Linked DNA regions of Homo sapiens. The protein of the gene in region 1 purifies or fractionates together with the protein of each later gene. This does not show direct contact. Each region holds a gene or a part of one and is shown in the gene's direction. Other genes may lie near its edges. The genes, in order: C12orf75 and GALM.

Region 1 (3,819 bases):
CCAGGATGCGAGATGCCATTTAACTACTTAACTATTTCACTATTTAGAATCCTGAATTCTTCAGATTTCCCTTGACTATACCTCATTCTATGTCCTATAACTTTAAAATAAAGTAATTTATTAAATAAATGACCTTTTAAAAACAAATGCAGTGGATTTACCTGGAAAAAGTTAAAGAACATTATAATATTACTTTTCCTTACACAAAAGGTATATTCAGGCACGTTCAATTTTTTAAGTGGAAGCTATAGATTTATAAATCTTGACTGTAATATTAGGTGATGCCATGAATGAATGACGAGCTAAGAAATTAAGATGACACTTAATTTTTTTATTATGCACATTAAAATTTTTTTTTAAAATCTAAACAGACTGATTCCCAAACCAGAAGGATTGGCCAAAATAGTAGAATAAGTACTGAGAGTAAAGAACTTAGAATAGGGCAAACACAATATTATGCAGACCACAGGAAAGTCTTTGTGGGAAAATGGTTGTTATTTTTGGAAGCCAGAAATACTATATATTTAAAAAATCAATTCTCTAGGAAAGGTCTGCAATTTTTACTACTCGTTTTTCTTATTTATTTGCTGTTTTCTATAGGTGAGAAGTCAGTATATAATAATAAATAAAATGATGTATCTGTCCTGAAGTAGTTCACTGTCTACTAGGGACCAAAATACAGTGTGGTAAGTGCTAATTATTCCAGTGTTCAGAATTTAATGCTGGTCTTGGAATTGAAGGATGAACAAGAGTTCATGCAGAAAAGGAGAAAAATGGCAACCCATGGCAGAGGACAAGCATGAAAAAAGGCATGGGAGTGCCAGAGGACAGTAGGTCTGGGACCAGCCAGCCAGGTGGTGTCCCCTGGAGCCTGTGCCTGTGGTACAGTCTGGGCAGAAGTGAAAGATGAGGTTGATGGGCAGGGCTGGCTTGTGAAGGGCCTTGGGTGCAAGGCCAATAATCGTGCTTGTTTTTTTTTATGCATTCAAGGGCTGATAGAGATTTTAAGGTGGAGGAATTAAATGATTATGTTTGAGTTTTAGGGCAGTAACTCCCAAAGCAGTGTGACACATGGGATGAGGGAGGGTGCAGGCACAGAGGAATAATGGAAGTGAGGCTACAAGAGGGTCAGATAGCAGAGGGAAAGGAGAAGAGGTGATACAAACAAGATGCATTAGAAAATGTAATTAATAAGATTTGTTTAATGACTGAACGGGGAAGGAAAGGAAAGGAAACTCTGAGGATAATGCTGCAGTCAAACTTGAGCCAAGGGAAGCGATGGCTGATAGTCCAAAGAGGTCATGGGGGGCTGAAGGAGGAAGAGAAGTCATTGCGTGTGTCATGATGGCCACATTGGTCACCCTGGGGACTGTAGTTTCAGTTGAGCAGGGTGAATGATAACCAAGTCAAAGTGGAAGTGAGCCAGGTGCAAGGAAGTGGAGAGAGTGATGTGGGTCTTTGGTTTTTATGCTGTTTGGCGGTAAGGAATGGAGGGATGTTGGTGGCTTTAAGAGGAGGCAAATTTTCAGAATATACTGTATTAGAAAAAGAATACCAAGGAAATTTGGAAAGTACAGGAAAGTATTTTTTAAGAGAAAAATTCAGTTATTATTCTACCACCAGAGACAATCATTATGAACATTTTACACTTTTCTTCAAGTGTTTTTTGGTTGTTTCTGCCCAGTTGTGAGTATGGTTGATTTTGTGTATTGAAGTTTGTTTTTCCTTTTGTCTTTTTTTAAAAATTATTTTTTGGCATGGAGGAGGCATGGATATTGCTGTAGGCTAAAAGACAGGAACCAGGCGAGTAAGAAAAGCTGATGGTGGTTTGGGGAGGGGGTTTCTCTCTGGTGGTGGAGAGAATAACGATGCATGTAAATCCTATGACAGGCTAGAGAACTCAAAACCTAGCTAGGTTAACCTTCAACACTTGAAAGCATGGTTGACAATGTCTAGAAACTTAATCACCATAAGAAAAAGCCTACATGTGTATCAGAAAACAAGCCTATTTTTCCCTCTCTTTCTGTCTCTTTGAAATTAAATCACAGTGCAGTAACACACTGAACAAAACAAACAAAACAGTGAATTCAAGGTAATGACATTCGGCCGCTTTCACAAACCTGCCAACATCAACCATGTTCTTATTTTAGTGTGGCAGATTCTCAGCTATTTGGCACAAATAGGCTGCGTTGGGATATTTTTGGTAGGAAATGGCAGAAGCCCAGTTTAAACTGGCCTAAACAAACAAACACAAAGGAATTTATTGGCATGTGGAGTGGAAAAGCTCCAGGGACTTGGCTGTAGTCACAGCTGGATCCAGGTGATCAAACAACAGGAAGAAATTCTCTTCTCTGCTTTCGTCTTCATTCTTAGGCAGCTTTCCTCAAGTGGTGACAAACAGGACCAGTTTATATCTTATCAGCTTCCTAATTCCTGTGGAAAAAAGCAGCTTCTTTTTCCTTGTAGTTTGATCAAAAGTCCTAGGGCTGGGCTCTCTTGGCCCGTTGGGGTCATGTTCCTATCTCGGAATCAGTCAGTGGGCCAGGAGAATGTGGGGTGCTCATTGGCCAGGCTGCAGTCATGTGCTCACCACTGGAGCCAATCAGTATCATCAGCCCCACCTTACCATATGGCCAAAGAGCAGAAGAGGGGTGATTCCCCACGGAAAAATTGGGATGCCGTTACCAAAAAAAAGGGGAGAAATTGTAAGTGGGCAAACCGAAACAATTGGAATTTAATTGAAAGCATTTTTTTTTGTAGATCAATTTTCGTGTTCTTAAAGAAGTCTTGATTTAAAGCTTAAGCAATATTTATAAGAATATTATGACTACGTTTCAAATAAGAAACAGTATTAAATAAGTTGACTCAAATATAATGTTTGCTGTTGAAAATAAAAAACCATAGCTACTCAATGTAAACAATGTAATTCAAATACTTCTTTCACTTAAAACATGTAAAGTGAATCTTACTGAGATTCTTTCCTTGGTAAAGCTATTTTATTATTATGGAAGGTAGCAAATACAGGGAAAAATATTTTGGAATGAAATGACATAAAACCCATTGGCAATTTGTTTTTGTTTTTGTGTTTGGAAAAAAGAAATGATAAATCTTTTATGTTGAGTTTCTTGGGATCCTTTATAAATTTACCATGTCTAATGCACCCATGTCAGCTGAGCCCTCTCTGCTCCTCATAGATACAGACCTTAGGGTATCTGATGGGCTCTTTTCTCATCCATGTAGTAGAAGGTAACGCTGTCTTCTGAGGGTGAAGAGGATGGGGTTGAAGTAGCATTGAAAAAGCCTGCATTTTGGAAGCAGAGGGACTTGTGTTTAAAATCCCCTTCACCATTTGCTAGCTGTGTTACATTGTGTCCTTAGTATAATTATCTGTGAAATTGGGATAATATAATAACTGTGCAGGGTGATCATCTTCATCATCATCATTCTTACAGTAGTAGCTAATCTTTACTGAGGACTGTGCACCATACACTGATTTCCAGCATTTTCTGTACGTTATCTCCTTCCATACCCATGATAATCTGATGGACAGAATAATGATGTTTCATTTTACAAGTGAGGAGGTGGGGAGCACAGAGAGCTGAAGTAGCTGCTGGAGGGACAGATTACAAATACAGTATATTTAATATCCTAGGAAAATACTTGGCATTATGCTTGTTGCCCCCGGTGAATGACAGCTAGAATTATTAGTTAGTTTAAAATGTTGTTGAAAAAATTTGGCAGGGCCTCTGACATGAATACTTGATGGCAGAAGACCCAGCATATTGAGGGCCTTGCTGTGGTTAGAAATCATATATTCCC
Region 2 (3,819 bases), on another chromosome or scaffold:
GACGAGCAAAACTCTGTCTCAAAAAAAAAAAACTTTTTTTTTGGCTGGGTGCAGTGGCTCACGCCTATAATACTAGCACTTTGGGAGGCCGAGGTGGGCAGATCACCTGTCAGGAGTTCACGACCAGCCTGGCCAACATGGTGAAACCCCGTCTCTACTAAAAATACAAAAGCATGGTGGTGTGCACCTGTAATCCCAGCTACTCATGAGGCTGAGACAGAAGAATCACTTGAACCCAGGAGGCGGAGGTTGCACTGAGCTGAGATCGCGCCACTGCGCTCCAGCCTGGGTGACAGAGCAAGACTCCATCTCAAAAAACAAAACAAAACAAAACAAAACAAAAACTCAACCGTAACATTGTTTAAGCCTCTGAAACAGAGCCCTTTTCTTTTCCTCTTCAAGAAAAAATGGCTGGAGTGATTTGGCCTGCTACAGAGGAAACTGGTATTCTCTGTACTTGGTACAAGGTTCTAGCACCTGGCTGTTACTACTCCTGGGTGGGCCATAATTTTAAGAGGAAGTGGACCTCTGCCATCATCTTATCCTGGGGTTTTCCACCTGCGCTGCTCAGAACCTGTACTTGATTCAGCTAGAACAACTCTGGCTTTTATGTATATGTTACTATATATTTATGAGTATATATTTTCCATTGTCCCTTGGAATCCATGGAGGATTGGTTCCAGGACCCCCTACTGATACTTAAATCATTAGATACTCTAGTTCCTTCTATAAAATGGTGCAGTATTTGCATATAACCTGAGCCCATACTCCCATATACTCTATTTATTTGAGGGTTTTTTTTTTCTCTTCCCCACCCTCTCCATATTTGTTTTTTAAGACAGTCTCATTCTGTTACCTATGCTGGAGTGCAGTGGTGCAATCATGGTTCACTGTAGCCTCGACCTCCTGGGCTCAAGCAATCCTCCTGCCTCAGCCTCCTGAGTAGCTGAGACCACAGGGACACATCACTATGCCTGGCTAATTTTTTACATTTATTTATTTATTTATTTTATTATTTTGGTAGAGATGGGGTCTCTGCATGTTTCCCAGGATCTGGGCTCCCATCTCCTTAACAAATTAAAATGAAGGCGGAGAGAGTAGAACCAGTGAGCCTTTGTGGAGGCTCTATATAAAGATGAGACTTGGGCATTTATCACCTTTGTTTTCTGTCTCTTCCCATCAGGAGAAGTTGCCCCAGTGCAAGGCACTGCATTCGACCTGAGAAAGCCAGTGGAGCTTGGAAAACACCTGCAGGACTTCCATCTCAATGGTTTTGACCACAATTTCTGTCTGAAGGGATCTAAAGAAAAGCATTTTTGTGCAAGGTCAGGTACTTTTCACTTCCTGAGTCTGTAAGGAAGAAATGACACCAAGTCCTATTTTCCTTTGGAGCTTTTCCTCTGGCCATATCAATAGCATTTACTATGCTACAAGTGACCCAATACCACATCCCATATTTTCTCAAAGCTCCCATGGCACAGGTGAGCTCTGTAGAATTTATCCCAGTCCCCCACCTGCCATTACCCCTATTCCCCCTGCTTGGCACCCGCTCTCTCCCTCTCTGCCTGTTCTTTAAGGCCCATTTTCTGTTAGAAGCCTTAACTCTTCCTAGTGAAGTCACCTCGGCTGTCACTGAACTTCCAGAGCCTTTGTGCTTTCTCGATCTGTGACTTATGCCTGCCTACTCCATGGCCAGTTGGAGGCTAGGCATCTCCTGCAGCACTCACCGCCTCCAGCCTTGACCGATAGACACTTGTGTGCACGCTCTCGCCTTCTCACCAAATCCCAGTTCCTCATGCCATTTCATCTTTGTGAAGCCCTACCTCTACCCCAACACCTAATATCATCCTTGGCACTAGCAAATAATGAATAAATGTTTGCAGAATTAACAGTTTTGTGTGTGTGCGTGTGTGTGACGGAGTCTTGCTCTGTCGCCCAGACTGGAATGCAGTGGTGCGATCTAGGTTTACTGCAACCTCCGCCTCCCGGGTTCAAGTGATTCTCCTGCCTCAGCCTCCTGAGTAGCTGGGATAACAGGCACGTGCCACTATGCCCAGCTAATTTTTGTATTTTTAGTAGAGATGGGGTTTCACAATGTTGGTCAGGCTGGTCTTGAACTCCTGACCTTGTAATCCACCCACCTCGGCCTCCCAAAGTGCTGGGATTACAGGTGTAAGCCACTGCACCCGGTCAACAGTTTTTAAATAAAGCAGAAAAAATGACTCAAACCAAATAGTGACAGAAAGAAGATCAAAGACCTTCTCCGGGCTGGGCGTGGTGGCTCATGCCTGTAATCCCAGCACTTTAGGTGGCTGAGGTGGGCAGATCACTTGAGGTCAGGAGTTTGAGACCAGCCTCGCCAACATGGTGAAACGCCGTCTCTACTAAAAATATAAAAATTAGCCAGGCATGGTGGTGGGCACCTATAATCTCAGCTACTCAGGAGGCTGAGGCAGGAGAATCACTTGAACCCAGGGGGTGGAAGTTGTAGTGAGCCGAGATCACGCCACTGCACTCCAGGCTAGGCAACAGAGCAAAACTCCATCTCAAAAAAAAAAAAAGAATCTCAGGCCAGGTGCAGTGGCTCTCATGCCTGTAATCCCAGCACTTTTGGAGGCTGAGGTGGTCAGATCACCTGAGGTCAGTAGTTCAAGACCAGTTGGGCCAACATGATGAAACCCCGACAATACTAAAAGTACAAAAAATTAGCCGGATGTGGTGGCAGGTACCTGTAATCCCAGCTACTCTAGAGGCTGAGGCAGGAGAATTGCTTTAACCAAGGGGGCGGAGGTTGCAGTGAGCCAAGATCGCACCACTGCACTCCTCCCTGGGTGACAGAGCCAGACTCCATCTCAAAACAAACAAACAAACAAAAATTAGCTGGACATGGTAGTGCGCACCTGCAGTCCCAGCTACTGGGGAGCTGAAGTGGGAGAATTGCTTGAGCCCGGGAGGCTGAGGTTGCAGTGAGCCGAGGTCGCGCCACTGCACTCCAGCCTGGGCAATAGAGAAAGACTCTATTTCAAAAAAAAAAAAAAAAAAAAAAAGAATCTCAGCCTCTCCAGGACCTTCCTCTCTCCAACCTGGCTGCTGCCTTCCTCCCTACTCCCCAGCTGGCAGGAGTGAGTCTGTTTTGTGATGCCCCAAAGAAGCTACTGAGGATCCTGAAAGCCACCTGCTCATGCCTTGCCTTTGAGACTGGAAGAATTTTCCATCATGCTCTTCCTACCTTCATCTCCTCCTTATATCTTGTCCCTGCTCTGTGGCTGGGTCTGATTCCTGTCTCAAAGCCGCTTCCCAGCTTCTACTCCTCCCCACCTGCTTTTCTGCCCTGGACTCATGTTGTTTGTATTTCTTACCAGGGTGCATCATGCTGCAAGCGGGCGGGTACTAGAAGTATACACCACCCAGCCCGGGGTCCAGTTTTACACGGGCAACTTCCTGGATGGCACATTAAAGGGCAAGAATGGAGCTGTCTATCCCAAGCACTCCGGTTTCTGCCTGGAGACTCAGAACTGGCCTGATGCAGTCAATCAGGTAATGCCACAGGCTGGCTTTTCAGAGTAGAGTTGTGTCCAAGGTCACACTGTACGACAGAGTTCACTACACTCGAATCAGCTTGTATGATTCAAAAGTTCATGCTTTGTTTGTTTGGTTTGTTTTTTGAGACAGAGTCTCACTCTTGTCGCCTAGGCTGTAGTGCAGTGGCACGATCTCAGCTCACTGCAACCTCCGCCTCCTGGGCACGATCTCAGCTCACTGCAACCTCCGCCTCCTGGGTCCAAGCGATTCTCCTGCCCCAGCCTTCCAAGTAGCTAG

What was found.
Region 2: the proteins of C12orf75 (region 1) and GALM purify together in Homo sapiens (affinity purification with mass spectrometry; one large-scale study listed by BioGRID and IntAct). This does not show direct contact.

Annotation. Positions count from the first base shown.
Region 1 is NC_000012.12:105,350,882-105,354,700, forward strand, and holds part of C12orf75 (overexpressed in colon carcinoma 1 protein), read left to right. Parts: intron 1-3,819.
Region 2 is NC_000002.12:38,728,373-38,732,191, forward strand, and holds part of GALM (galactose mutarotase), read left to right. Parts: intron 1-1,183; coding exon 1,184-1,325; intron 1,326-3,362; coding exon 3,363-3,537; intron 3,538-3,819. UniProt on the Homo sapiens protein: Mutarotase that catalyzes the interconversion of beta-D-galactose and alpha-D-galactose during galactose metabolism.